Homo sapiens: one gene and its partners. The protein of the gene in region 5 purifies or fractionates together with the protein of the main gene of each other region. This does not show direct contact. Each region holds a gene or a part of one and is shown on either strand. Other genes may lie near its edges. The genes, in order: SAFB, INF2, ECH1, MTHFR, GCN1, NDUFA5 and EPB41L1.

Evidence for each region.
Region 1: the proteins of GCN1 (region 5) and SAFB fractionate together in Homo sapiens (co-fractionation; one large-scale study listed by BioGRID). This does not show direct contact.
Region 2: the proteins of GCN1 (region 5) and INF2 fractionate together in Homo sapiens (co-fractionation; one large-scale study listed by BioGRID). This does not show direct contact.
Region 3: the proteins of GCN1 (region 5) and ECH1 purify together in Homo sapiens (co-immunoprecipitation; one large-scale study listed by IntAct). This does not show direct contact.
Region 4: the proteins of GCN1 (region 5) and MTHFR purify together in Homo sapiens (co-immunoprecipitation; one study listed by IntAct). This does not show direct contact.
Region 6: the proteins of GCN1 (region 5) and NDUFA5 fractionate together in Homo sapiens (co-fractionation; one large-scale study listed by BioGRID). This does not show direct contact.
Region 7: the proteins of GCN1 (region 5) and EPB41L1 fractionate together in Homo sapiens (co-fractionation; one large-scale study listed by BioGRID). This does not show direct contact.

What each region holds. Positions count from the first base shown.
Region 1 is NC_000019.10:5,650,424-5,654,598, reverse strand, and holds part of SAFB (scaffold attachment factor B1), read right to left. Parts: intron 3,622-4,175; coding exon 3,527-3,621; intron 1,485-3,526; coding exon 1,335-1,484; intron 1,262-1,334; coding exon 1,179-1,261; intron 539-1,178; coding exon 399-538; intron 232-398; coding exon 143-231; intron 1-142. UniProt on the Homo sapiens protein: Binds to scaffold/matrix attachment region (S/MAR) DNA and forms a molecular assembly point to allow the formation of a 'transcriptosomal' complex (consisting of SR proteins and RNA polymerase II) coupling transcription and RNA processing.
Region 2 is NC_000014.9:104,709,805-104,713,979, reverse strand, and holds part of INF2 (inverted formin-2), read right to left. Parts: intron 3,893-4,175; coding exon 3,792-3,892; intron 3,044-3,791; coding exon 2,973-3,043; intron 2,902-2,972; coding exon 2,794-2,901; intron 2,352-2,793; coding exon 2,281-2,351; intron 1,548-2,280; coding exon 1,427-1,547; intron 1,153-1,426; coding exon 988-1,152; intron 774-987; coding exon 671-773; intron 536-670; coding exon 374-535; intron 1-373.
Region 3 is NC_000019.10:38,818,201-38,822,311, forward strand, and holds part of ECH1 (delta(3,5)-Delta(2,4)-dienoyl-CoA isomerase, mitochondrial precursor), read right to left. Parts: intron 1-4,111. UniProt on the Homo sapiens protein: Isomerization of 3-trans,5-cis-dienoyl-CoA to 2-trans,4-trans-dienoyl-CoA.
Region 4 is NC_000001.11:11,788,418-11,792,592, forward strand, and holds part of MTHFR (methylenetetrahydrofolate reductase (NADPH)), read right to left. Parts: intron 3,963-4,175; coding exon 3,861-3,962; intron 2,910-3,860; coding exon 2,790-2,909; intron 2,482-2,789; coding exon 2,263-2,481; coding exon of another isoform or gene 2,123-2,262; 3' UTR 1,043-2,122; coding exon of another isoform or gene 853-1,042; 3' UTR 627-852; coding exon of another isoform or gene 235-626; 3' UTR 1-234. Other genes in the region: uncharacterized protein C1orf167, read left to right, coding at 235-626. UniProt on the Homo sapiens protein: Catalyzes the conversion of 5,10-methylenetetrahydrofolate to 5-methyltetrahydrofolate, a cosubstrate for homocysteine remethylation to methionine. Represents a key regulatory connection between the folate and methionine cycles.
Region 5 is NC_000012.12:120,132,006-120,136,180, forward strand, and holds part of GCN1 (stalled ribosome sensor GCN1), read right to left. Parts: intron 2,722-4,175; coding exon 2,528-2,721; intron 2,401-2,527; coding exon 2,286-2,400; intron 18-2,285; coding exon 1-17. UniProt on the Homo sapiens protein: Ribosome collision sensor that plays a key role in the RNF14-RNF25 translation quality control pathway, a pathway that takes place when a ribosome has stalled during translation, and which promotes ubiquitination and degradation of translation factors on stalled ribosomes.
Region 6 is NC_000007.14:123,547,388-123,551,562, forward strand, and holds part of NDUFA5 (NADH dehydrogenase [ubiquinone] 1 alpha subcomplex subunit 5), read right to left. Parts: exon of another isoform or gene 3,981-4,175; intron 3,200-3,980; coding exon 3,083-3,199; intron 1-3,082. UniProt on the Homo sapiens protein: Accessory subunit of the mitochondrial membrane respiratory chain NADH dehydrogenase (Complex I), that is believed not to be involved in catalysis. Complex I functions in the transfer of electrons from NADH to the respiratory chain.
Region 7 is NC_000020.11:36,227,065-36,230,519, forward strand, and holds part of EPB41L1 (band 4.1-like protein 1), read left to right. Parts: intron 1-2,267; coding exon 2,268-2,276; 3' UTR 2,277-3,455. UniProt on the Homo sapiens protein: May function to confer stability and plasticity to neuronal membrane via multiple interactions, including the spectrin-actin-based cytoskeleton, integral membrane channels and membrane-associated guanylate kinases.

The DNA of each region.
Region 1 (4,175 bases), on a different chromosome or scaffold from region 5:
AAAAATAGTTTGAGATTTCTACATTTTCGAAACGGCCGACAAAAGCTTTTTTCAAATGAAGCTTAGTAATTCCCTAAGACGCACACAGAAATACAAACTGAAAAGAAGAGCAAAATACCCTAGTTAGAAAATTAATACTCACTCTCTCTTTGGACCCGGACGTTTTTACACTAATCACAGGCACCCCTTTGGATTTATCCATTACTACAGTCCGTTCGGTCCCTCGACTTCCTACAGAAAAGACGGGGAAAGTGTAAGTGGAAAACCAAGAATACCCAGATGAGAAAAACCCTCTGCAACATGAATCCAGTTTCCGTTGCCAGCTAATCACAGCAAACTAACAAACTCCACTAGGCACAGAAACAAGACAGAATCTCCTGGGCTCATGAGCTGCCCACCTGACTTTGTGGCTCGAGATCGCTCTGAGGGGCCAGGTTTCTGATCATCTTGGTCCTTACTCTTTTCTCCACTTCCGTCGTCACCCTTCTTAGCATCATCTTTTCTGTCACATTTATCATCCCTCTTAAGGTTTGTAGATCTATAAAAAACAGACATGTTGGCTGGGCGTGGTGGCTCATGCCTGTATTCCCAGCACTTTGGGGGGATGAGGCGGGCGGATCACATGAGACCGGGAGTTCGAGACCAGCCTGGCCAACATGGTGAAACCCCATCTCTACTAAAACCACAAATGGGCATGGCTATAATCCAAGCAAATCGGGAGGCTGAGGCATGAGAATTGGTTGAGCCAGGGAGGTGGAGGTTCAATGAAAAGAGATCTTGCCACTGCACACCAGCCTGGGCAACAGAGTGAGATTCTGTTTAAAACACCCTGCCCCGGCCAGGCATGGTGGCTCACGCCTGTAATCCGAGCACTTTGGGAGGCCGAGGCAGGCGGATCACAAGGTCAGGAGTTCAAGACCAGCCTGGCCAATATGGTGAAACCCCATCTCTACTGAAAATACAAAAATTAGCCGGGTGTGGTGGTGCACACCTTAGTCCCAGATACTCAGGAGGCTGAGGCAGGAGAATTGCTTGAACCCAGGAGGTGGAGTTGAGGTGAGCCGAGATCACACCACTGCACTCCAGTCTGGGCGACAGAGCGCGACTCCATCTCAAAAACAAAACAACAACAACAAAAAACACCCTGCCCCTTTAATTTAGCCAGGAAGGAGGGGTACCTGTCACTGTTGCTCGACTTCTCCTTTTTCCCGTCACTGTCTCTTTTGTCAGAGGTTTTCTTTCCCACAGGTTCATTTTTGGCCTGAAAAAGAGAATCAAGTATTACCCCCATTTCCTAATGTGGGCTATATCCTGGGAAGAAAACGGCCACTCACTTTCTCCACGGAGATCATCTTTCCGTGGAGCTCCGTCTTGTGCAGGTGGTTAATGCATTTTGTGGCCTCTTCTGCTGTGGACATCGTGACAAAACCGTAACAGCGAGCTCCAGGACTCCGGGCATTTGTCACAACCTTGGCGCCCACCACCTCAAAGGAAAGCAGGCAAATATGACTCAGACATGAAGCCCACTGAGCGGGGCATGGGGATATGAACACCCCACAGGGAAGTCTGCTCATCAGGGGTCCGACAAGTGTTAGACTGGGGAGGACAATGCTACTAATGCTTCTGTTTCGCTGTTGTTCCTCCAAGGACCTCTGGCCAGTTCTAATCGCTCATCTAGTTCCTCAAGGGGGCCAGGAGGGCAATGTAGGGGAACAGACGAAAGGGAAATCAAACAGGGTTCTGCCAGTGTTCCTTTAATATGGTCTAAAACTTGTGAAGAAATGATTCCAAATATACAGTCATGCTACGTAGGTGGTAAATTATGAAGTGATGTAATGTGGGCAAAAAAAGAAAAAAGAAAAAAAAAAGACTTCGGCACAGACTGATGCAAGGAAAGGTCTGTGAGCCGTGCTCTGGAACTCAGATCTGCCCTATCATTGACTGTAACAAAACGCAGTGATGTGTTTCAGTTACTGTAGACACATCCTTTCCAGTCTACCTGGTTTTCTCGACTCCAGCAGGATGCAGTTAGGGTCGCCCTTTGACGGCAGAAGACACCATGGCTCAGGAAAAGCCCTGCAGCAGCCAGTGGCCGAGGCTGGTAATCATGCTCATCATGCCACATGGAATCCTAGTCCCAGAGGACATTCTCAGAGAGGCCCGGTCCTCTAATTAACCCACATCAGGCCTGCTGCGCTCAAGACACTACAGTCTCCAGGGCAACACTTCCCCACTGAGCACACCCACCCGCTGGGGGACGCCATGGAGTCAGGAAAGGGGGTCTAGTAGGGGAGACTTGGCGCAGGTGTTGCCAGCCACACACCTTGTATCACTGAGGCTCAAGAAGCCCTTAGTTATGTCCGTAATAATGACATAATTAGTTTTATCCTTTTTTTTTTTCTTTTTTTAAGATGGAGTCTTGCTCTGTCCCAGGCTGGAGTGCAGTGGCACGGTCTCGGGTCACTGCAACCTCCACCTCCTGGGTTCAAGTTGTTATCCTGCCTTAGCGTCCCAAGTACCTGGGATTACAGGCATGCGCCACCACGCCCGGCTAATTTCTGTACTTTTAGCAGAGACAGGCTTCACCATACTGGCCAAGCTGGTCTCAAACTCCTGACCTCGTGATCCACCCACCTCGGCCTCCCAAAGTGCTGGAATTACAGGCGTGAGCCACCACACCCAGCCTGTTTTATCCTCTTTTAAGTTCTTCGAAGTCAGTATCAGGGAAAACACTTGGTTTTCTATATTGCAATGTGTTGAACCCTCACTGTGTAACACAAAGGATTGGACTCCTTCCTTTGGTAGTCCCCGAAACCGACTCTGAGAGAGACGAGGAGCCCTGAATGCAGGAGGCTGTTTGGGAGGCAAGTCTGGGAAACACCAGGGAGGAAGGGAGTGAGAAAGCACAGGGAGGAGGGCCAGGCGGCTGCGCTGGGCACTGCAGGTAGGGGGCTGGTGCCACCAGCCCCACCTTCACGGGCTCAGGAAAGGCAGGTGCTGCAGACAAGAGGCCACTAGAACTGCCCCCAGTGGTGAACTGAGGCAGCAACTTTGAGAGCCCCCAGCTGCTGAGGTGAGGTTCAGTCAATGGACCCAAGACACCCGTGGTGAGGACCCCTATCATCAGACTCCAGGGTCCCTGTTCTGAGTTCTGAGTTCCAGCATCACGAACACTGTTCTAAGAACACTGCTGTCTCCCAGACATGCTGACCAGCACCCCACCAGCCAACCCTGGCAGCCCAGCCTGAGTGCGACGTCCTGAGGACACAGAAATGGATCCACGAGCCATCACAGGGAAGGGGGCAAGCTCGCAGAGAAGGGAGGGAAATACAGTGGTGATGTGGGCTCTGGAAGCTTCCACACCACTCTCACCTCTACCTGTGGACGGGCAGACCCTCCCCAGCCATTAGCAAGTGTAAGCTCCTTGGTATCTCTCAAAGAACTCACTGAGGGGAGAGGACCTCCATGTAAAGGCCACACAACGCTGGTTTCAAAGTATCTTCTCCAGAAAAGCTCTGGCACTTACCTTCCCATATTTGCTGAAAAGATTCTTCAAATCTGTAGCTCTGGTTGTAGAAGAGAGTCCACTAACCCAGAAATTTCTACCACAACTGCTGCGACCTATTTCAAAAGAAAATTCTAGTAAAAACCCAAATACCCACAAGATCTTGAGTCTTAGAGACAACCTTTCCAAAAGAGACATGGTTCCCATTTTTCCTGAGGCAGTGGCAGCACTAAAAGCCAAATGGGGCTGTGGGCCTGACCACTATCCTCACCAAGAGCCTCCAGTGCAACACCAGGCCCAGCAGCACTACCACAGGGCCCGTCACAATACTGAGTGGGGCTATTGGGACAATGTGAGGTTTCCTAAGAAAGTTAGCAATTGCGGGCCGGGTGTGGTGGCTCACGCCTGTAATCCCAGCACTTTGGGAGGCTGAGGTGGGCGAATCACGAGGTCAAGAGTTCGAGACCAGCCTGGCCAACATGGTGAAACCCCATGTCTACTAAAAATACAAAAAATCAGCTGGGTGTGGTGGCGGGCGCTTATAATCCCAGCTACTCAGGAGGCTGAGGCAGGAGAATCTCTAGAACCCGGGAGTCAGAGGTTGCAGTGAGCTGAGATCGCGCCACTGCACTCCAGCCTGGGCAACAGAACAAGACTCTGTCTCAAAAAA
Region 2 (4,175 bases), on a different chromosome or scaffold from region 5:
AGCCACCCCAGGAATGGGGTCCTCCCACCAGGGCCTTGCCGCCTGCCTTTCCTGCCACCTCTAGCACCCTCTGAGCCCAAGGGCATCGGTCAGTGGGCCTGGCCTCATCTCTCTGGAGCCCAGCGGGCTGGACTGCTGCTTCAGCACTGAGGGCAGGGCCTGCGGTTACAGTGGAGGAGCTGGAGTGAGTGGAGGGAGGGATGAGGGCTGAGCGGCCACCACCTGTCCCCTCGGCTGTCCCCAGTCTTAGGGGCCTCCAGGGTGGCCCAGGGAGAGGAGAGGGCTTTCCAGTGAAGTCAGGAGGACTTCCTGGAGGCACAGGGTAGGGACAGTGGCAAGGGGACCATGAGGAGGCAGTGGGAGAGGGTCTTACCAGGCTCTGTGGCTCTTGGGGGATCCATGGAGGCTGCCTTGCTGCCCCCGTCGGTGTCCCCGCGGCCCCGGGCTGTCTTCCGCAGCTGGAAGCCCTTCCTGATGTCAGCCAGCAGGGCATCGATGACACACACCTCCTCCTGCTTCCCGGGCCCCTTCCTGACTGAGGAGCGTGGGGCACTCAGAGAGCGGCATGGGACCCTGGAGCCCACCTAGAGGGCTGGGGGTGGTGGGGAGGCTGGAGCACAGACAAGGATCCCAGAGTCACCCCCTCCCCGCCCAGCCGGCCCAGCCTCACCAGGCTTCCCGTCCTCTCCCCGAGGCCGCCGCGCCTCCTCCTCCGCCAGCTGCTGCTTCCTCCTCTCTGCCTTCGCCGCCTGCTCCTTCCGGTCCTTGTTCTCCTGCACTGGCAGATGTGGCCCCGTCACCCCAGCGTGGCATCCCTCAGGGGCTCCATGGGCCTGGGCGTCCCCCTCCCTGAGCCGCAGCAGCGCAGGGCCCACATGGCTGTGTCGGCCCGACGAAAGGTGCCTCTGCCCATCCTGCCGGAGGAAGGCCAGGGGCCTCGGGACCCCACTCTAGCCAGACAGGCTGTGTCCCGCCGGGCTGCCCCACCTTCAGGGCGCGGAGGAAAAGGTCCCGGAAAGCCTTCATGGTGCTGAACGTGTCCTCCAGGGACAGCTGCTGGGCGTCCTCACACAGGTAGTCGGCCAGCTCCCGTTGCTTCTGCTCGATGGCCTCAAACAGCTCATCCAGTGCCCGGAAGGCCGAGATGCTGGCCTGGGGGCAAGGGCACGTGACAGTCCCGTGAGAGCCCCGCGCGGGCACCACCCGGGGTGAGGCCCTGAGTTGCGGGAGGGTGACGGCCACAGGGACAGGCCCTGAGGACGGTGGTCTCTGACAAGGAGCAGGGGCCTGTGCCCTGACCATGCACACCTGGGGAAACTCGGGCCCCAGGATCCACCCTGGAGCCAGGAGACAGCACAGCCACTCGCCCAGCTCACTCTATCAGGGCAGCCTCTCCCGCCAGCCCCAGGCCCAGGTGCCCACTTGCCTGGAGGCGCTCGGTGTACTGCTCCTGGACCTCGGCCACGGAGGCAGACACCTTCCGCTCGGTCTCCAGAAGCTTCTTCAGGTTGGAGCTGGCCTCTGAGCGGATGATCTCCAGGTTGATCCTGAAAGGTGAGGAGGGCCGGGCAGAGACAGCAACGGCTGACGTCAGCCTCGCTGGGACAGGGGAGCCCCTCCCCTGCACCCCCCGGCACCCCACTGTGCACCCTGCAGGCTGTACTCTGAGGCTGCACGTGCAGTGTTGGGGTTGAGTGCCTGTTCCAGCTGACCCTCAGCCCCCTGTGAGCATCTGGGCGGGGACCCTAACGGTCAGCCTGTCCTGCTTGCCTAGTTCTCCCCAAGGCTGAGCAGCTCCTGAGCCAGAGAACCTTCCAGGGCAGGTGGAGCCCGGGAAGAACTCCGTGCTAGGGGCCCGGACTGTGTAGTGGGGTGGCCCAGGCTGCCCTCCTGCCTGGGTTGTGTGACCCAGGAGGTGACACTGCTTTCCTGGGCCTCCGTTTCCTCATCTATACAATGAGGGAGGCCCGAGCCTGCTCACGGCTGTCGTGAAGGTCCACCTTGTGAAGGGGCTGTATTAGACCTGCCCGTGGTGTGACCCTGACCTGGCCAGCCCTTGCCCACTCTAGGCCTGTTTCCTCGCTTAAGTCAGAAGGGGATAGGCCACGGCAGACCCGGTCCTGTCCCAAAAGGGAAGTGTTCTATTGGGCAGGGCTCCGTGGCGCCGGGGCTGCGCTGCAGCTGTGAGACCCAGCCCTGGCGGGCAGCCACCTCACTGCCTGGGGACAGAAGTCAGGCCCCCACCTGGCTGAGGTGGGCGGGCTGGCAGGAGCTACCTACCCTGCTGCTTGCGAGGGCTGTTCCAGGTCCCGGGGCAGCTGCAGGAGGTCGGGGTGGCTCTTTTCCGCTTCCTGCAATGGGACACGTCCAGTGAGATCCACTGTGGTCATACTCTCCACCTGGGGATGACCCTGTTCCCACTCCCCCAGCTCTAACCCTTAGCAATTAAGGTCCAGAAAACCCCCAGTACTCCAGACCCTCAAATCTTTCCCTTGGGCCTGGCTATGACTTTGTGATGTTTCTGCTTTTCCTAGGGACTGTCCCCCAGATCAGGGACAGGTATCCTGGGGAGGGACAAGGCTCGTGCAGGGGAGCCAGTGCTGCAGGAAGGAAGGGGTGCTGGGAGGGGTGGGGGCGTGGCTCTGACTGAGGCTGCTGGCTCTAGACGGAGCCCTGAGACAGGGAGACCGGCGGCCTGAGTGGTGGGCATGGGGGTATGGCCTCTACGCCTCTACACCCCAGGTCCGGGGGGACTTGAAGCCCTCCCATTATGCCCCCGCCACCACGGCCCACCTCCAGCACGTGGTGCAGCAGCGTCACGCGGTTCTGCTGGGACTTGGTCTCCGTGAGCTTCAGCAATGTGCTGATCTTGAAGCCGTCGGCGTCACCGGTGTGGCTGCCCTGGGAGGGGCAGGGAGTGAGTCTCACCAGCCCCTGGCACCAGGTGGGATGGGGAGCTGCCCCTGACTTACGTAGTTGAGGAAGTTCCCAATTCTCAGGATCAGCTGGCAGAAGATGGGCAGCTGGCGGCTGGTGAGCAGGCCTGCAGGGGCAGCCAGGGCTGGAGAGGGGCTCTTGGTTCGGAGCCCCCAGATGCCCTGGCGGTGGGGTGTGGTCCTGCTTGCCAGTGCCCCTGCACTCCCTGGCTCCTCCCCAGGCTCAGCCCAGCACCGGAAGGATCACAGGACAGGGCCTGGGGGCTGCAAACCCTCCACCGACGGGAGTGGACACCTACAGTGTGCCTGACAGACGTGAGCTGTGCCTCACTGGTCCGTACCTGTCCCTCTCCCTGCCCAGTGGCTGTGGCAGGTCCCCATGGATTCCCCTTTCAGAGATGGTGCCCGTGTGTGTGCACTTATGTCTGTACATGTATGTGAGGGTGTGTGTGTTGGGGGGGTGTGTACGTGTGTCTGTGTGTCCTGTGTGCATGTGTGTGACTGTGCTTGTGGGCTTGTGTGTGTGCACGTGCCCGAGTGGCGGTGTGCATGCGTGTGTGCACGTGCCTGAGTGGCGGTGTGCTTGTGTGTGCGCGTGCCGGAGAGTGGCAGTGTGCTTGTGTGTGTGCACGTGCCCGAGTGGCGGTGGGCATGCGTGTGTCTGTGCGTCCAGTAGGTGTGTGCACCGAGGTGGTGGCAGCAGGGTGGTTTCCGGAGTGGTGGTGAAGGCTGGCACCCTTAGGTGCTCTTAGCAGCCATTATGATACTGGCAGTAGCAGGGGCCCCGAGCAGCCCTCCCGCCCCGGTTCGGAGGCCTGTCCCTCCTGCACACGTGCCCCGCTTGGCCCCACTCACTTTCGCAGGCAGCCAGCACCAGCTGGGCCTTGGGCCGCACCATGTCCAGCACGGCGGCCGCGCCCTCACACAGCAGCATGCACTCGATTCGCAGCTGGTAGCTGGGGATGGCACAGACAGGGATCAGTGGCCTGCACCCCCCACCTGTCCCTGCCAGAGGGGCACTCAGCACAGGGCTCTGGCTTGGGTGGTGGGCAAAGGGAGGGGGTTTCCACCGCCTGCCCCATCCAACAGGCACCCTCCCGGGCCTGCGCAGAGCAGGATCCAATTCCTCCAGAGGCCTCCAGCCCCACACTTTGAGGGGAAGGACTGGGGGTGGGGCTCGAGTGATGTTTAGAAGCCCAACCGCTGCAATGCTGCTCCTGGAGCCCGGGGCAGCCATTG
Region 3 (4,111 bases), on a different chromosome or scaffold from region 5:
AGGCCATGCTTTTCCCCAAGATGCCAGACAGCCTGGGACTCAAGGTCTGCAGCGTGAGCAATGCAGTCAATGGTGGTGATGTTTCCTGAGATGAGAAACATCTCACGATGCAGCAATTTCTGTGGCTCCAACTTCAAGATGATCCTGAATCTGACCTTTCCTGCATCAGTTGTTCTCCATGAGCCCACCCTGCTCTCCCTGTTTCCACCTGTGTCCCCAGTCTATTCCCTACAGGCAGCCAGGGGAAGCCAGTGGACACCTTCTTGGGTCAGATCCTCTTTTTTTTTATTTTATTTTTTTTATTTCAGACAGAGTCTCGCTCTTGTCGCCCAGGCTGGAGTGCAGTGGCAGGATCTCGGCTCAATGCAACCTCCGCCTCCCGGTTCAAGTGATTCTCCTACCTCAGCCTCCCAAGTAGCTGGGATTACAGGCGCCCACCACCATGCCCGGCTAATTTTTGTATTTTTAGTAGAGACGGGGTTTTGCCATGTTGGCCAGGCTAGTCTCAAACTCCTGACCTTGTGATCCACCCACCTCGGCCTCCCAAAGTGCTGGGATTACAGGCGTGAGCCACCGTGCCCGGCCCAGACCCTCTTTTTCCCACCTGTGGCTCTTAGAACAAAATGGAACGTCCTTGTCATGACTACCCTGCATGAACACTGTTCCCAACCTGTTACTTTGGGCACACTGGCCTCCAACTCTGTGTGTGTGTGTGTGTGTGTGTGTGTGTGTGCACTGTTCCCAACCTGTTACTTTGGGCACACTGGTCTCCAACTCTGTGTGTGTGTGTGTGTGTGTGTGTGTGTGTGCGGGCACGTGCATTTGAGCCCAGGAGTTGGAGGCTGCGGTCAGCTATGATCGCACCACTGCACTCCAGCCTGGGCGACAGAGCAAGACCCTGGCTCAAAAATAAAAAATAAAAAGAAAAGAAAATGGCAGGACAGAGAGGTGAAAAGACAAGTGGAAATAGGATCCAGATCACTGCCTGAGGGCTGTGCAGTGGTACAGAATCTTCTCATTGAGAAGGTGACCTTGAGTAAAGACCCAGAGGAGAGGGAGGGAGCCAAGGACCTTTGGGCTGACAACCATCCCTCCCTCTTCAACAGCCACAGACTGACTCCTTCACTTCCTTCAGCTATAGCTCAAAGGTCACCTCCTAGAGAGGCCCTCCCTGGCCAACCTGGCTCAACGATGGCCCCATCCCCCGCATCCTGACCCCGCCTTACCTCCGGGCTGCACAGCTGCTATCCTATAATTAGGTCCTTATCTGCTTGAGGGTCTGACTCCCTTTCTAGAATGTGAGCTCTGAGAACACAGGAGTTTTTGTCTTTCTGTCCACTGCTGCATCCCCTGGGCCTAGCACAGGGCCTGGCGCACACGAGCTGCTCAATAAATGATCAATACAGACAACAGTCCCTGTCCTCATGGGGAGGCAAACAAATGAATAAAAAAGTATATTTTGGGGCTGGGCGTAGTGGCTCACACCTGCAATCCCAGCACTTTGGAAGGCAGAGGCAGGAGGATGGCTTGAGGCTAAGATTTTGAGAACAGCCTGGGCAACATTGCAAGACCTCTTCTCTACAAACAATGAAAAAATTAGCTGCACATGAGGCTGGGCATGGTCACCTGTAATCCCAGCACTTTCGGAGGCTGAGGTGGGCGGATCGTTTGAGCCCAGGAGTTGCAGGCTGCGGTCAGCTATGATCGCGCCACTGCACTCCAGCCTGGGCGACAGAGCAAGACCCTGGCTCAAAAATAAAAAATAAAAAGAAAAGAAAATGGCAGGACAGAGAGGTGAAAAGACAAGTGGAAATAGGATCCAGATCACAGCCTGAGGCCAAAGTCCCCCTTACTTTTTTTTTTTTTTTTTTTTTTTTTGAGATGTAGTCTCACTCTATCGCCCAGGCTGGCGTGTAGTGGCGCGATCTCGGCTCACTGCAAGCTCCGCCTCCTGGGTTCACGCCATTCTCCTGCCTCAGCCTCCCTAGTAGCTGGGACTACAGGCGCCTGCCACCATGCCCGGCTAATTTTTTACATTTTTAGTAGAGACGGGGTTTCACTGTGTTAGCCAGGATAGTCTCCATTTCCTGACCTCGTGATCCGCCTGCCTCAGCCTCCCAAAGTGCTGGGATTACAGGTGTGAGCCACGGCGCCCGGCAATCCCCCTTACTTTTAACCAGCATGCCAGCTACTCAGATGACAGACATTTAGCAGCTAAGAGCAAGGACTCTATAGCCAGGCAGCATGAGTTCCAAAATCCCAGCTCTGCCACTTACAAGCTGTGATTATTGGGTAAGTTTCTTGCTCTCTGGATCTGTTTCACCTTTAAATGGGGCTTATAGCAGAACCTGTCTTGTGGACTGTGATTAGAATTAATATGTTTAACGTGCTTAGAAAGGGGCGTCACACACCATGAGTGCTACATAATTGTGGCCACCTTTTTCTTTCTCTAATTAGTAGTTCTACTCTATCACTGGGTCACTGCATGACCTGCCGTTTCTTCCTTCTGGCCTTCGGGGTCTTGCTGCTGAAAATAAGATAAGACGGCCACATTCAGCTGGGAGCTGAAAGATGAAGGACCTGGGCCCGGCACAGCCACAAAAAAGCCCCATTTTTCTGTTCTCAGACATGATCTCTATGAGAGCAAGGGGTCAGGAATCGGGGCTGCTTCCCGTTTCCACATCTGCAGCACCCAGGAGGGGGCTCTGGCACTGGACTGTGTCACTGAATGTTTGTCAAATGAATGAACAAATGAACAAGAGGAGGAACAGAGGGAGATGCAGAAAGAAAGCAGGAGGCTGGGTGCGGTGGCTCATGCCTGTGATCCCAGCACTTTGGGAGGCTGAGGCAGGAGGATCGCTTTAGATCAGGGGTTCGAGACCAGCCTGGGCAACATAGCAAGCCCTGCCTCTACAAAAAGTGAAAAAACTTGCTGTGCATGGTGGTGCACACCTGTGGTCCCAGCTACTTGAGGGGCTGAAGTGGGAGGATGAGGGGAGGTGGTAGGGGCTGAGGTGGGAGGGGTTGAGCTCAGGAGGTGGAGGCTGCAGTGAGCTGAGATTGCTCCACTGCATTCCAGCCTGGGTGACAGAGGGAGACCCTGTCTCAAAAATGAAAGAAAGAGAGAGAGAAGGAAGTGAGAGGTGACAGCATGCTGGCAGCCCTTGCTCGCTGGCCTCAGAGCCCACTCTGGCCATGCTTGAGGAGCCCTTCAGCCTGCTGCTGCACTATGGGAGCCCCTCTCTGGGCTGGCCAAGATCGGAGCCGGCTCCCTCTGCTTGCAGGGAGGTGTGGAGGGAGAGGCGCGGGCGGGAACCCAGGCTGCACGCAGTGCTCTCCGGCCAGCGCAAGTTCCGGGTGGGTGTGAGCTCGGCGACCCCGCACTCGGAGTGGTGGGCCGGCGCCACCTGCCCTGAGCAGTGAGGGGCTTAGCACCTGGGCCAGCAGCTGCGGAGGGTACACCGGGTCCCCCAGCAGTGCCGGCCCGCTGGTGCTGCACTCGAATACTTGCCGGGCCTCAGCTGCCTCCCTGTGGGGCAGGGCTTGGGACCTGCAGCCTGCCATGCCCGAGCCTCCCCCCGCCGCCGTGGGCTCCTGCACAGCCCGAGCCTCCCCGAGGAGCGCCACCCCCTGCTCGGCGGCGCCTGGTCCCATCAACTGCCCAAGGGCTGAGGAGTGCTCCGCCTGCGGCCCTGGTGCAGGATCCACTGGGTGAAGCCAGCTGAGCTCCTGAGTCTAGTGGGGATTTGGAGAACATTTATGTCTAGCTGAGGGACTGTAAATGCACCAATCAGCACTCTGTATCTAGCTAATCTGGTGGGGACTTGGAGAACGTTTATGTCTAGCTAAGGGATTGTAAATACACCAATCAGCACTCTGTTTCTAGCTCAAGGTTTGTAAATGCACCAATCAGCACCCTGTGTCTAGCTCAAGGTTTGTAAATGCACCAATCAATGCTCTGTGTCTAGCTCATCTGGTGGGGACTTGGAGAAACTTTATGTCTAGCTAAGGGATTGTAAACAACCAATCAGCACTCTGTGTCTAGCTCAAGGTTTGTAAATGCACCAATCAGCACCCTGTGTCTAGCTCAAGGTTTGTAAATGCACCAATC
Region 4 (4,175 bases), on a different chromosome or scaffold from region 5:
TTTCACCTCATACTTAACCCAAACCCCTCTCAAAAGTATGGCCCTTGGACCTACTGACTCCAAAACCTTGGGGGACAGGCCCAGGAATCTGCATTCTTAATACTCCTCAGATGACACCCCCTTGCCATAGCCCTTTCACTCTGGTGCAGCAGTGTCGGGGGAGAAAGGCAGAAGGGCTGGGGACTGCGGGGGAGCGTGAGCACAAGAGGCCTTCTCTGCCAACTGTCCCCAAAGCTCAGGGAGTGGCACCTGAGATGGGCCTGGCAGACGTGGTGGCAGCGGATCCTGCGACTGCGAGTGGCTCAGCAGTTACAGCAGCAGGAAGATGGGTGGGTCCTTTCCCAGGTACTGCCCTCTTCCCTGCATTCCACTCAGCCAGCCTTCCAGAAGTCTGTGCCACAGCCACGCACCGTGGAGCTTTCCCTGCTTGCCAGCCCCGGGGCCCCTTCGTTTTCAGGGGAGGGGGTCAGTTCCATTACAGAACACACAGGCTGGATGCTGGAGCCCTTGCTTTGATTTGTGGCCCCAGCTCAGGCCAGGCCCACCCGGTCCATCAGTTTGCGAAGAAGGTGTGGCATGAGGCATGGCTGCCACTCACACTAGCCCATGGAGGGCCTGGGTCCTGAGCGCCCCCTCCCTCATTTGCTCTGCTCTGAGTACAGCTTCCCAGCTCACCATCAGATCTATTCTGAGCTTGTGCATTTGGCCTAGGCAAGACTGGCTGGCTGCTTGGGGCAGAGGGAGGGGCCCTGGGGACAAAAGGAGCTGGGTACAGGGGTTGCTCTAGCAGGCACAGCACAGACCCCGGAGAAAGCCCACAACAATAGCATTTCCTCTCCTCCCTGGTTCCAGGCCTTTAAGAAGTGGCACCAACGCCTGGCAGCCAGGAGCCCAAGGAGAGGAGCTGCCAGTAGCCCAAGACCCTGGAGCAAGCCAGGCCCCAAGGGCCCCGAGAGTGGACAGGAAGCCGCCAGAGCACCGCGGGGTTGGGGGCTTGGGGCAGAGCATGGGGCCCAGCTGCAGCTGTGACTTGTTCTCATAGAATAAAAAACAGAACTGAACTTAGCCTTCCCAGGGAAGGAACCATGCCCCACACATCCAGGGAGTGATGACAGAGGGGACAGCTTGAAGAGCTCTGAAGGACAATAAAACCCACTCCTCAGTCCTAGCTGCTGCTTTCAGTCTCTCCTAGCGGCTGCCCCTCTGCCCCAGCCAGTGAGGCCAGGAAGGGAGTAAAGAGGACATCCCACAATTGCGTCCACCCCCTTGGCCATCAGGCTGCTCTTCCACTACACGAAACAGCCCATCTGCACCTGCCAGTCACTGCCCCCAGGCCCTGGGGCTTGCAGGTGACTCGTGGGGAGCCAGGCCAGGCAGATAACCTCTGGGACAGGACGAGGGGATGAGGAAGGCAGCTGGCAGGACAAGGGCCTACCTGAAAAATACACCAGGAAGCTGGGCTGCTGCACAGGCCCAGGCAGATCTGGGGCCCCTGTGCTGGCAAATCTCATCTTAGCCTCTGACAGGGAACGGGGCAGCATCAGGCCTCCACAGCCAGGCAAAAGGGGAAGGCCACGAGCCCCACCAAGCACAAGGGTTCAGACTGCCTTCAACCCTTAAGGGGCACTTTTTCTCTCAAGGCTCAGAATAGACAACTGTGCCAAAAAGCAGCATGGTAGGTGTCAGCCCAATGCCCATCCAGGGGGCTGGTGCCATGGACGGCTAAGTGGGCAGGCAGGGCAGTGGTGTGCCCCTTCAGTCACAAGTAGGTGGGGCCCAGCTGCCCACCTCTAGGAGGTGGAAGGGTACAGCACTTTGCCACATCTCTTCTACGATGCCACCAGTGCCTGATGCCCTTGCGTGTTTTGCCTGTACTGCACGGGCTCCAAGTGTAAGTTCACTGGGAGTCCCAGGCTGGCTCTGGAGGCTGCCTTGGTTCGAGGGCTTAGTTGGCAACAACCACTCTCCTCGCCTTCTCAGGAGGTGCCACCCACTGTGGTCCTCTGCAGGACGCAAGTGCTCCCCACCAAAAGAGCACAGACTCCTGGCTAGAGCAGAGAGTACTAGGTTCCCATGTGGGGCCGACTCAGGTCCAGGAAGAGCCTGGAAGCCTCACTCCAGTCTAGCTGCCATTGTCAGGTGGGGGAGTGGAGGCCGGGGTGGGAGAGACACGAAGGAGAGTGGAGTTCCCAAGAGAAGCAGCACTGTGGAGGAGGAAGGCGGGACAGGAGTGGCTCCAACGCAGGGCGTCAGGACGCAGGGTCATGGAGCCTCCGTTTCTCTCGCATTCTGGGTGGGCCTGTTGAGAAGCTCCAATGTGTCTTCCACCACCTGCCAGAGGCAGTTGTCCAGTGGGAAGTCATTGTCCACCAGGTTGACCAGGAAGTAGTTGTCGTGGATGTACTGGATGATGGTGCGGGACGGGGACTCCTCCTCATACAGCTTTCCCCACCGCTCAATCCACAGGGCAAAGGCCTCGTCCTACACACACATACCCCCGCACACACGCACACATGCACACACACACAGAGGCAAGATTAACAGGGCTCTCCAAGGGCTCTGCTCAACAGGACATTTCCCGGAATAGAACAAGGCCCACTGCCAGTATCACTTCCCACCCCTGCCCAGAAATAAACACCCTGCATCAGCAGTGACATGGGTGAGTCAGAGCTGGGTGTGCCCTGAAGGCTGGGTCCAGTGTGGCCTTCAGCACACGCTTGGGACTTGGTCCCAATCCCTCCCCACGGTTTTCCAGGTGGGCGGGGCAAGCTTGCCCCCGGCTCCTTTACCTTCCAGAACATGAAGCTGACGGGATCCACTACGGTGGGCTGGATGATCTCTCGCCCAGGGAAGATGCCCCAAGTGACAGCATTCGGCTGCAGTTCAGGGGCATTGGTGATGTTTTCACCCTGAGGGGATGTGGGGTGGGGGTAAGACCTGGGCCAAGAACAACTGGAGTCCCACTGCCTGGACAGCCTTGACTCAATGAGGCTGTCTGGGCTCAATACCCTCTGCCTGCGCCTCCACTCCCGGCCTCCACTCTCCCTGCGCCTCCACTCCCCTCTCCCTGTGCCTCCGCTCCTGGCCTCCTCTGCCTGCATCTGTGAATGATATCTCTCCCCACACAAGCCTGAACCTAGAGGCGTCCTGGCCACTTCCCCTCTCCTCCTTGAGCACCCCCTGCTCACTCTCTGATCCATTCCCTCTTGTCTAGCCCACCTCCAGGAGTGTGTTTGGCTTGGGTCACTCCAGGGGTCTCTTCACTGGCCTCCCCGGCTCTAGCCGTCCCCAATCTCTCTCATCCGTATGACTATCCACTGTGATTTGCCTAAAATAAAGCAGGAACCAAGCCACCCCACTGCTGGAGAAAGGCTTCCCTTGCATTGAGGGAAAACTCAAATTCCAGCAGGACAACCATGATCTCTGCGGGCCTGGCCCCTGCTTAACACTCCCGCCTCCTCCTGCTCATGTTCCCCGTTTCCCCAGATGGTGCAGCTCACTGCCTCTGCCTGTCCTCTGCCCTGTCCCAGGAATACCCTTCTCTCCTGTTGGCCAACTCCTCTTTGTCCTCAGTGATTCCCACAGATGACCCTCTGAGAAGCCTTCCCTGGCCTCCCAGGTGAGATATCCCTCCTCTGGACCCGACAGCATCCTCTCCTGAACTTGATTTTCCCACTTACACTGGCTGGTGGTCACACATTGATCTGCCTCCCTCACTCTAGGCTGGGAGCTCCTTAAGAGCAGGGCCCCAGTTCTGCCTGTATCTCTCTGTCTTGCACAATGCCTAGCCCAGGCTAGGTGCTGGGTGTTTGCTCAACGAAGGGCCTGGTACTCTGTGGGAACCCTGGGGCCTGGCCTACCTTCACATTGACAAGGTGGTAATTAACCCGGAGCTCGTACTTCTTCAGCACTTGCAGAAGTGCTTCCGCTGTCTCGCGGGAAGTGAAAAACTCTAAGTAGGCCTGTGGGAGAGACAGGTGCCTGTCACCAACCCCAGCCCTGCCAGACGCCCTTTCGCAGACACCTAAGGTATCAGGACTACTGGCAGCCATGTGGGCGGAATAATGAACTGTGGCGTTGGCACGTCCATAAGCAAAGGGTGAGGGGAGTGGGGACGTGAGTTTCTCAGTCTGGACAGGTCTGAGGGCTATCAGCCACCCCTCTCCCAATCAGTC
Region 5 (4,175 bases):
GAGATGCGAGTGTTGTCCTGACAGGGAAGAGAAGGGAGTGAGGGGGTGCAGGGAACAACACCAGCTGTGTGGGAACCAAGGCAGGCAGCTCTAGAGCCCAGGATGGACAGCAACAAAGAAGGTGGAAAAGCCAACTCAGAGACTCAAGATCCAGTCCTTCCTGTAGGCACTCGTGCTCCCCTGCCAGATTGGGCTGCCACTGGTATGGAGTTAAACATTACACAGCCAGCACTTCACTTAATTATAGAAAACCCCAGTGTGTATGCATATGGTAATCATCCTTGTAATAGCAGTAATAACTGTATTTACATAGCATCTTTCTTCTTAGGAAGGCTGAATGTTTCATATTTATTATCTCAATTACTATCAACAGCCCTGTGAGGCAGGGAGGGGCGGGAGGGGCAGGAGGGGAGGCACCTGCCCCCAGCCACCAGGGAAGCCGGCTAGAGACGGCCACTCTGAGCTCCTTTCTCCCACAGAGTTTGTGTCATCTTGTGGCCAGAATGACTCCTGCTATCTCCCTACTGCATGAGTGCCCCACTGCCACCGAAATTACTTGGGTTCATCCTAGGAAGTCAAACTAAAGCCACTAATCAAGCCAAGGAAGATAAGGAAAGGCAAGCACTTCCTGTTCAAATCAGAGCCAGGTACGCGAGCGGCTCCGTGCTCCTCCCTGGCCAGCTAACTATGGAATACCAAGAGAGGATTTTAAGTTATGTTCCTTATTACAGGTGCCAACTCAACATGTCCCCAAAACAAACCACCAACCAGGGACTCAATAACCCAAAAAGCTAATGCCAGGCTGGCACCCTGAACTGCCACCTTCAATCTGAGTGGAGGTTCAGAGGGTAAGAGAATGGACTGCCAGCAGTTTGGGCCTCTGAGCTCGAAGCAGAAGCCCAGGTGCCAAGCTAAAGCTGGCTCTGACACCGACTCTCTCCAACTTCATCTATTTTAAGCTGCACTGTGGTAAAATGCAAATATGTTTCAATACTAACTTTTGCTTGCACTGTACACATGACTCTGTAGAAGCCCTGAAAGACTGTGACCAAGACAGCAGACTTTCCTGTCTGTCCCCACAGAGAAGGCTGGGGCTGGAGTCCGACAGCTGGCGCCTGGGGACCAGAACTAGGCCTTTGGAGCCATGGGAAGTGCAGCAGCAAGTGTGTGTGTTGCAGGTGTGGGCAGGAGGAGTGTGTGTGGGTGTGTGTGTGTGTCAATGACGTGTAAAACCATGTGAGCCCAAAGGCCCTCTCCTCCTAGATTGGCCCTACAAAGTAAATTAGACCACAACAGAGGGCTGTCTGAAAAGGGAACAGAAAACTCTTCTCCATAGACTCAACTCCCTACTGGCCCCACAGTGCTCGCAGCCAAATATTTGACAGATGCTTCCAGACTAGGTGAGGCTGATGGAACTGGGACAGAACCAGGAGTCCAGGGCTTCTGGTTTGGACTCTACTACTTGCTGGGTATGGCCCAGACAAGTCTCACCCTCGAAAATAGACCTCTAAGACTTGCCACCGGGACACACCCTGGAGACCATTTATCCCACTACACACTAAGTTTCTTGAGGTCTGTGACCACGAGGTCTATGCACCTCTGGGATAGGCCCTTTAGCTCGGCAAATGTTTCACAAAACAATAAATAAACCTCTTCATTTTACAAAAGTGGAAATGAGAGGCAGACAGAGAAAGTGACTTCTTTAAGATCAGAGAGCAAATAGGTGAGAGGTCTGGGTCTCTACAAAGCTTACTTGCCTCATCTATAAAATAGAAATAACCGGCCGGGCGCGGTGGCTCATGCCTGTTAATCCCAGCACTTTCGGAGCCCGAGGCGGGTGGATCACCTGAGGTCAGGAGTTTGAGACCAGACTGACCAACATGGTGAAACCCTATCTCTACTAAAAGTACAAGTATTAGCTGGGTATGGTGGCGGACACCTGTAATCCCAGCTACTCGGGAGACCGAGGCAGGAGAATCGCTTGATAGGAGGCGGAGGCTGCAGTGAGCCGAGATTGTGCCACTTCACTCCGGCCTGGGTGACACAGCAAGACTCAGCCAAAAAACAAACAAACAAACGGAAATAACCAATATATCCACAATACCTGCCCCGTTTCCCTTGAAACCCGAGGAAATGTTGGTGAAGCATACAGGGTGATAGAAATGTCAGGAATGCTTATTACTACTGAGCTGTACTGGTTCTAACACAAAGTGAAGAACTCAACCTAAGGAGGAGGAGGGAAACCAGTGGTCCAGTGCTGCCACTAGTCCTGCCTGCAGCCGTACCTCATCGTGTCCCAGCATGCTCAGCAGGAGTGAGACGATGTTTTTCCGGATGACGGCATCCACTTTGGCCCCTGCTCCCTGAATCACAAACCTCAGGGCCTGCAGCATGGTGTCCCTGCAGAAGCAATGCACCGCCTTAAGCCCTGGGTGCCTCCACCACCACCCCTCCTGCCAGCGCAGGCTCGGCCCACAGCAACCCCTGGCCTCCTGGAGGCCACAGTGCTCCCTTGCCAGCGCCGTACCTGACACCTGGGTCCTCCATGGCGCGGATGCCATTGAGCAGCTCTGTGAAGAGGGGGTCCACCTTAATGTGGATGGAAATGAGCTTCCCCAGAGCATCTGCGGCCTTCAGGCGCACCCCCCGGTTGGAGTCCTGCAGGGCTTTGGTGAAAGTGGTCTGCAGCTGGGGCAGGAAGGGCTTCAGGGCAATCCCAACCTGTGGGAGGAACCCACATCCATGAAAGACAGTTGTGGTAGACCCAAAGCCACAGTGTACCACAGGCATGAGAACAAATGACAATCCCAAACCACCACAGCGAGTCCAGCTCTCATACAGGGCTGGGGACAGATAGCCCGTCAGAGAGGCCAAACACAGACAGGTTTCGCTTGGCCTCCTGGTCATATCCAGCATGCTTTGATACACTGGAGGAGCAGGAGGCCGAGGAGGCGGCGGCCGCTATCTGAGGGAGCTGTCTCGCAGCCTTGGCTGCGTTGGGGTTTGGCTTAGTGGAGACCTGTCCATATCGATAAGTGACTCAAATCCTCCTCTGAATACATTAACAAGCAGGGCAGACTATCGGCAGTACTGAAGCACAGTTCTAATGCCAAGACAGGGAAAGGGACTCAGTGTATAATTGCAGAGCCCATCTACTGAGCAACTGACAGCAGGATACGCACTCCACATTCAGCCCTCAGAACAAGCCTGTGAAACAAATGACCTTGGAGAATCCTCCCTGCACAAATGTGTACCCACCTAACTAAAAATCCAGTTCAACCCCTGACTATACAGAAACACAGGCACACTTTTGATACAATACAGGTGGGTCCAAGAGTAAAGATTTACTTACTGTTTTTTGTTTTGTTTTTTTTTTGAGACGGAGTTTCGCTCTTGTTGCCCAGGCTGGAGTGCAAGGCGCGATCTCAGCTCACTGCAACCTCCGCCTCCCGGGTTTAAGCAATTCTCCTGCCTCAGCCTCCTGAGTAGCTGGGATTACAGGCACCCGCCACAATGCCCGGCTAATTTTGTATTTTCAGTAGAGACAGGGTTTCTCCATGTTGGTCAGGCTGGTCTCGAACTCCCGACCTCAGGTAATCTGCCCACCTCGGCCTCCCAAAGTGCTGGGATTACAGGCTTGAGCCACCACGCCCGGCTTACTTATTGTTAATTAGGAAAACCAGAGTGACTGTTTGGAGGTTCAGTGCCAATGAAGGTCTGGAAATACTGGAGTTGGGTGGGTGTGCAGGCTGTGGCAGGCACACAAAGGGGATAGGGGGAGCTGGTAAATCTGAGCTGTGCGAGGTCAGGAGTTCGAGACCAGCCTGGTGAAACCCTGTCTCTACTAAAAATACAAAAAAATTAGCCAGGTGTAGTGGCAGACACCTGTAATCCCAGCTACTTGGGAGGCTGAGGCAGAAGAATTGCTTGAACCCAGGAGGCGGAGGTTGCAGTGAGCCGAGATCGCGCCACTGCACTCCAGCTCTGGGTGACAGAGTTAGACTCTGTCTCAAAAACAAAACAAAACAAAACAAAAAACAAAAAAAAACAAAAACTGCAATATCTTTAAACAATGTTTTCCTTGTATTTACGTGGTCCTGAATTTTTTCCTTTGAAAAAGTAGTTTTTCAAAATAATAGCATTTCACATGTACTGAGTGCTTAGTATGTAGCAGG
Region 6 (4,175 bases), on a different chromosome or scaffold from region 5:
AGTTTTTACTTTTTTTTTTTCTTTTGGTCTCCCATCACTAACATGTAATCTCCAAGAAGGAAAGGATTTTTATCTGTTTTGTGCCAACTAGGCACAAGTTTCCATGCCTAGAACCATACATGGCATTCAATAAATGTTTCTTGGTTAAAGAAGTGAATACATAAAAAACAGCTGAAAGGGGGAGAAAAGGGGAAAAAGTAATAAGCATGTTTAAGACAGATTATTTAACAGGGAATTAACTCATATGAGAGACCAAAAATCAAAAACAAAACAGGGAAGCTGGTCACTGTTATAAGAGACTCAGGAGAGTGAAGGTAAAGAAGGCAAGGAAAGTTCAACGACACTTTCATTTCAGAAAAAGCCTGTGTTAGGTGAACAGTTCAAAATTTGTCTTACCGATAGTGAATAATGTGATTTTTAGTCACCAATGGCATAATGCTATTAAACTTGATAAGGTACCATGTACTGAATGCTCACTATATACTTGGGACTATGTTAAGCTTTTACGTGCATTACCTCATTCGGTTCTAACAAAAAGTGTTCGAGGTGGGTATTATTATACCCACGTTATAGATGATGAAATTGAGACCGAGAAAACTAGCAATATGCCAAGTCACTCCACAAATAAGTATTAGAACTAAGATGAAAATCTTGGACAGGGACACAAACAACGCTTTTCACCAAAATAGTACTATCTCCCTAGTAATAATCTGAAAAAAAAAGTTACTTTTATTTCCACCTTAGGCTTAGTAAATAGATATTTTATAATAATGGCAATATTCACTAAAGATTTTGTGTGTGGCTGTATGCAGGGTTAAAAATCTGTGATAATTTTACCAAAAACAGGAATCAGAGATACAACTGTTAAGTGTTTGGGGTTATATCTAGCCTTTGGGATAAAGACACATTTCTAAGGAACCTTATGTTCCAGGTACCATGCTAGAGTCTAAGGATACAAAGTTGAATCCAATATCATTAACAAGTAGCTTATGGCTGGTGGAGACATAATACAGCATGAAGGTACAATGGAAAGGAGGTAACAAAGTTGTCAAACTCTACTTAAGAAAGTAAGAAAAGGTTTCACAGAAGAAGTGATGATTTATGAAGAAAAAGTAAGAACTACCAAACAACGTAAAGGCATTCCAGGAAATGAGAAAATACAAATGAACACAAAAATAAAAATGCAAGGAATCCACAGAACTGCCAGCAGTTTGGTACTGCTTAAGTATAGAGTATAAAACAGGAAGCAACAGGATCAGATTGAGAAAATAACCAAGAGCCAGAACTTAGAAGGCCTTCTATACCATGTTTTTACCCTGTTAGGCCAGTGGTTCCCAAACATGGCCACACATCAAAATCATGCAGATAAAGGTAGCTAAGCAAGCTTCATACAACCAGCTCAACATAAATCCTTAAACTCAGCCTTTGAGAAACACTGAACAGAAAACCACAGTAAGATTTTAAGCAAGACAGCACAGTTGGCCCTCAGGATCTGCATCTGTGGATTCAACTAAGAATGGATTCAACCAACCACAGATGGAAAATATTCAAAAAAACACAATAAAAATAACAATACAGCAATTTTTAAAATACAGTATAACTACTTACACAGCATTACATTGTAGTATTATAAGTAACCTAGAGATGATTTAAAGTATACAAGAGGATGTGCATAGGTTATATGCAAATACTATGCCATTTTATATAAGGGACTTGAGCATCCTTGTATTTTGGCATCCATGGGAATCCTGGAACCAATCCCTCATGGATACCAAGGGACAACTGTACCATCACAAGATTTACATATTGAAAAAAAAATCAGTCTATTATTGGCTGTATGGTGGAGCATGTAATGAAGTATAATGGAAGTACAAACAGATCAATTAGTTATAAGGCAGTTTAAATAGCAGAGAAAAGGATTTTGGAACCAGTAAGTAAAGAAGTATGAGAGTAAACTCTTCTTTGGTTGAAACTGGCTATGGGAGAAAACAAAAATAGGACAATAAGTAAAGGAAAATACAAGCATACAGTTTTTTTTATTTTTAAGATAGGAACAAGCTAAAAACATTTGAGGCTATTTGAAAGATGATGATAAAATAGGTGAGGCACCGGGTGCAGGTAGCTCATGCCTGTGATCCCAGCACTTTGGAAGGCTAAGGCAGGAAGGTCACTTGAAGCCAGGAGCTTGAGATCAGCTAGGGCAACACAGTGAAACTCCGCCTCTACAAAAAATTTTAAAAATTAGCTGGGCATGATGGTGAGTGCCTGTGGTCTCAGCTACTTGGGAGGCTGAGGTAGGAGGATTGCTTGAGACTGGCAGGTCAAGGCTGCAGTGAGCTGTGATCGTGCCACTGCACTCTAGACTGGGTAACAGAGTGAGACCCATCATATAATACAATACAAAATACGATATAATACAAACTGCATTGTTTTGTTGCATACCTAACGAAAGATAGGAATTCTCTTTGAACTATATAGTCTGGTAATCTAATAAGAAGAAATATATGTGACTAGGATCACTTATGCATGTATATAAATTACCTTCAGAGTTTCTAAGCACTATTTTAGATAATTACATAAAGTCCATTTAATGATTGCTAGTGTGAAAATTTAACAATAGTACAATATAGTTTGGTATGAATCAGCAGTCTAGACTTTTATTAACTGCTACTTAATAACAGTCTAGTCTTTTTGACAGGTTTCTTTGAAAAAAAAATGCCCTTTTTTGTTTTGCTTTTATTGTTCTCTAAGATTAGAAAAAGGAGATCAAGATTGATATATCCAAGATAAAAAGCAAAAGATCAATAAAGGACTAAATAGTGAAGAGAGGTAAAAGGAACAGCTACAATGTTACTTCAAGGAAGGATCTGATCCTAGTCTCAAACTCCAGTATGTAACAGAGGCCTGCATATAGAAAACACTCAATAAACAAGAGTTTGCTGAATAAAAGGGAGGAATGATGGGAAAAGAGCATTCAAGGAAGGAGAATAGAAGAAAAGTGTGTCGAATATATAAAAAATAAGGAACTAAACTTTTTTGGTTAAATGTTACACAAGACAACAAAACTGACTTAGCTACTTACCGCTTTAACCATAGCCAGCTTCTCATTTGTAATCTGTTCTGTATACTTTCTATATGCTGCATTTTTAGGGATTTCCTCAAGAACATCAAGAATCTTTGTGTACAATATTCTTAGCCTCTGAAAAGACAAACCATACAAATTTCCATAGGTTAAAATATTACCAAAGACTTAATGGAACACTTGTCTCAAAGACAAAACAAACAAAACTCACATCTGTTTTTTTTTTTTGCTTTTTTTTTTTAATTTAACTCTTCTTTGCTCTGACTTCTTTATGTCTGTGCCCTATCTACACCCTTTATAACTTAGGAAAAACCTGTATATAAACATGGGAACATTCTGTATTTTCTGTGTATAACAAGTTCTAGATAAGTCAAAGGTATGATAACAAGTAGAAACAAAACTAACTTATTGCTAAGGACCTTTTGGGAAATCGAATCATTTACCAAATCAGTATTTTTCTTTCTTTCTTTCTTTTGAGACGAAGTTTCACTTGTTGCCCAGGCTGGAGTACAATGGCATGATCTTGGCTCATTGCAACCTCCACCTCCCAGGTTCAAGCGATTCTCCTGCCTCTGCCTCCACAGTAGCTAGGATTACAGGTGGCCGCCACCACGCCTGGCTAATTTTTGGTAGAGACGGGGTTTTGCCATGTTGGCCAGACTGGTCAGAAACAAAACAACTTATTGCTAATGACCTTTTTGGAAATCAAGTCATTTACTAAATCAGTATTTTTCTTTCTTTCTTTTTTTTTTTTTTGAAACGGAGTTTCGCTCTTATAGCCCAGGCTGGAGTACAATGGCGTGAACTTGGCTCACTACAACCTCCACCTCCTGGGGTCAAGTGATTCTCCTGCCTCAGCCTCCCAAGTAGCTGGGATTACAGGTACCCGCCACCATACCTGGCTATTTTTTCTATTTTTAGTAGAGACAGGGTTTTGCCATGTTGGCCAGGATGGTCTCAAACTCCTGACTTCAGGTGATCCGCCCACCTCAGCCTCCCAAAGTGCTGGGATTACAGGCGTGAGCCCACCCAGCCTGAATCAGTATTTTTCAAAGTGAGGTCCGAAGCACTGCAAATTTTTTTTTTTAATTTT
Region 7 (3,455 bases), on a different chromosome or scaffold from region 5:
AGCACTTTGGGAGGCTGAAGCAGGAGGATTACTTGAGCCCAGGGGTTCAAGACCAGCCTGGCCATCATAATGAGACCTTCGTTTCTATAAAAAATGTAAAAGATTAACTGGGTGTGGTGGCTGGCACCTGTAGTCCCAGCTACTTGGGAAGTTGAAGCGGGAGGATTGCTTGAGTCCAGGAGGTCCAGGCTGCAATGAGCTATGATCGCGCCACTGCACTCCAGCCTGGCAATAGAGCAAGACCCTGTAAAAAACAAAAAACAAAAAACGAAACGAAGGAAGGAAGGAATAGATGGATACAACTAGGTTTTGGAGCTAGAAACACCTTGGTAGCTGTGTGCCCAGAGGAACCTCTCTGACCTCAGTTTCCTCATCTGCAAAATGTCATTAATGTATACATTGGAGTTGCTGTAATAACTAAACAACACCTGTGATATACTGGATCTGTGTCTTGCCTACAGAAGGGGCTCAGCAAGGTGAACCTGCTTCCTTGTCCCTCTGAGGTTTTTCCATGTTTAGAGGTTGATGAGAGTACTGAGAAAGTCAGATCGTAATTCTCCACCACCAGCCTGGTGCCTGAGGCCCTGTCTCCATGAGGGTGTTTGTCTTACTGGTCTTCATCTTCTGTTCCTTCTGCAAATCCTCCAGAAACATCTGTCCCTGCTTCAGTTAACTCTGTCTTCCTTCTTAAAGTTCTTCCTTCTTGAAGTTCTTGCTATGAGCGTGGAAAGTCACTCATGTCACACAGAACCTTTTCCCTTCTCTCCCTGCAACCTTGCAGGTCAGACGTCTGGTTTCTGCTCCATCTTCTCCCACTGGCCCACCTCCTTCAGAGAGGACCTGTCTCCCAAACACCACCAGCAAGAGGGCAGCACTTGCCTAGCTTCCTAACCTTCCAAAATTTAATGGGAAAAAATTGACCTGTTCCAAAACAGGAACCTTGGGTTTTAGTCTTGGTTTTGCCAACTTACTAAGCCTGAAGCCTCTGGGCCTCGGTTTTCCTATGTGTCAAATGAGCCAAGAAAGATCCATTTTCTGTGATTCCGTTAGCACTCGACTGCATGCAAGTAGCAGAAATGATGTTTCATCCATTAAATGGTTTTGAGTAGTTGCTATGTGCCAGGCACAGTGTTGAACACTGGAAAGACAAGAGTTAAAAGATAGCCCTTACCCTCAAGGAGATCAGAGTAGTGTGTGGTTAAATTAACAACAGCAACAATCATCATAATAAGAACAGCCAGTATTTATTCAGCACTTACTATATGCTGGGCCCTTGCTTCAGTTCCTCCCTATAATGGGAGGCAGAACCTATTTTACGGAGGAAGCAATTGAGGCTTAAAGAAGTTAAGAAACTTGCCAGGCACTGTGGCGTGCACCTGTAATCCCAGCTACTTGGGAGGCTGAGGCAGAAGGATCACTTGCAGCCAGGAATTCAAGGCTGTAATGTGCATTGATTGTGCCTGTGAATAGCTATTGCACTCCAGCCTGAGCAACATAGTAAGACTCGTCTGTTAAAAACTGTTTAAAGTAAAGGAAGTTAAGAAACTCACCCAAGATTACAGAGCTAGCAGGCCCATAGAGTGGGATTTGAACTCAGGGAGTCTGATTTCAGAGCCTGCTCCTTTAAACACTGAGTTTTGGAGCCAAACCTGGAATCCAGACTTCATTTCTTTATTTAAACACTGCTGTCTGTGGTTTAATCTCCAGGACACAGCAAGCCCACGGACAACAGAAAGGAAAACCAAATGAAAAAAGAACATCTGCAATCGTGACTAAACATTTCTTAGAGCTGACAAGATAGGAAGAAAAAGTAAAATGATGATGATCTTAGCTTCTCGGTGTTAAAGGACATTTTAACACATTGTCAGGCCAAAGTAAAAGATTACCACCTCCCTGGAAACAAGCGAGCAAACACACATGGGCTCTGGAATCCAACAGATGTGGGTTCGGTTCTCTGCTGCCACACACAAGCTGCGTGGCCTTGGAGTGCAATAGCTACTCACAGGCATGATGATTACACATTACAGCCTTGAGTTTCTCACCTCAAGAGATCCTTCCACCTCAGCCTCCCAAGTAGCTGGGATTACAGGTGCAAGTCACTCTACCTTGCTGAGTCACAATAAAGGGCATATGGTAAAGGGTAGCAAAAACAACCTCTTGCCATGTATTTTAAAACAAGTGACAGAAGTTACTAATTTTTCTTGTCCTCTTCCTTCCTTTCCCCCCACTCCCCACCCCCCATTCTACCCCATGCCTCTGGCTTCCAGGAATCCTGACCTCTGTGAAGAGATCCTGGCATTTCTGGTCCAACCCAAGCCAGAGAACCATTAAGAAGGGGCCTTCATTCTGGATTCTCCGACGCAACACTGACGTCCCAGCTGCGACGTACTGTCACTGATGAGAGACTGGGAAGGGAAAAGCATATATATATAGATATATAGAGATATAGATATATATACAGGAAACACCGCATCCTTGCACTGCTGCTGGGGCTGGCAGAGCAGTTGGCTGACAGCAACAACCGACATCTGAACACCTACATTTCCTTTGCAGACAAATTGAAGAACTGGTGGGATTTTTTTCAAGAAAAAAAATTATATAATAACTATAATCCCTTGCTCACCCCTTTCCCCCGCCAAATAAGAAACGCAAGCCAGACCACGATGATTGTAGAAGTCCCTCCCGCCCTGGTTCTGCACGTTACAGTTAGCAGACGAGCAATTCCATTTGTTCTTCTCCAGCATCTCTAAGGCCCACTTGAATGCAAAGGAAAACACTTGCACAGCAAAGCAAGAGAAGTCACAGCAGCAAGACACGCACAGTCAACCATTTTCCGAGAAAAAAAGAAAATTCCCCACTTGGAAAGAAAGAGGAGGAACACTGGATTCTTACTTTCTGGATCTTGACACTGGGCTGCAAAACCTACCTTCCTCTCTCCCGCCTCCCCTCACCCTCAACTCTCAATGTCTTGCTGTCATTTTCTGTCTCGGCTCCCTCCTCCCCCTTCCCCCTTCCCCCACCCCACACCCTTCACCCTCTGTGTCCTGGTCCTTCTGAGGGCCACTGCAGATGACTCTCCTTTGAAATGAGAAAAAGAAAAGAAAGCAAGAACAGAAAACGAAGCCACAGGAAGGGAAGTAGACATTGTATGCTTATGGTTTCTCATTATGAAGGTGCAGCTTGTAGGAGGTTTGTACGGATGTGCTTTGAAGTTATGTATATTACATATAACAGGAAAAAATATTAAAATAAACAGTGCTGGTAAGTATGAAGCTGACATTCTAAAATTATAATTATCTGACTGTGATTGATGTATCCTGAGGTTCCTAGATCTCACTGAACTGGCCCAGCTAAGGAGACCTGGACTCTGGGTGTGGGTTGGCTCACAGTAGGGGCTGACGGGTTCAGTGTAGTAATACTGTGTGTGGTGTTTGTAATTGGTTGATTGGTGGGGA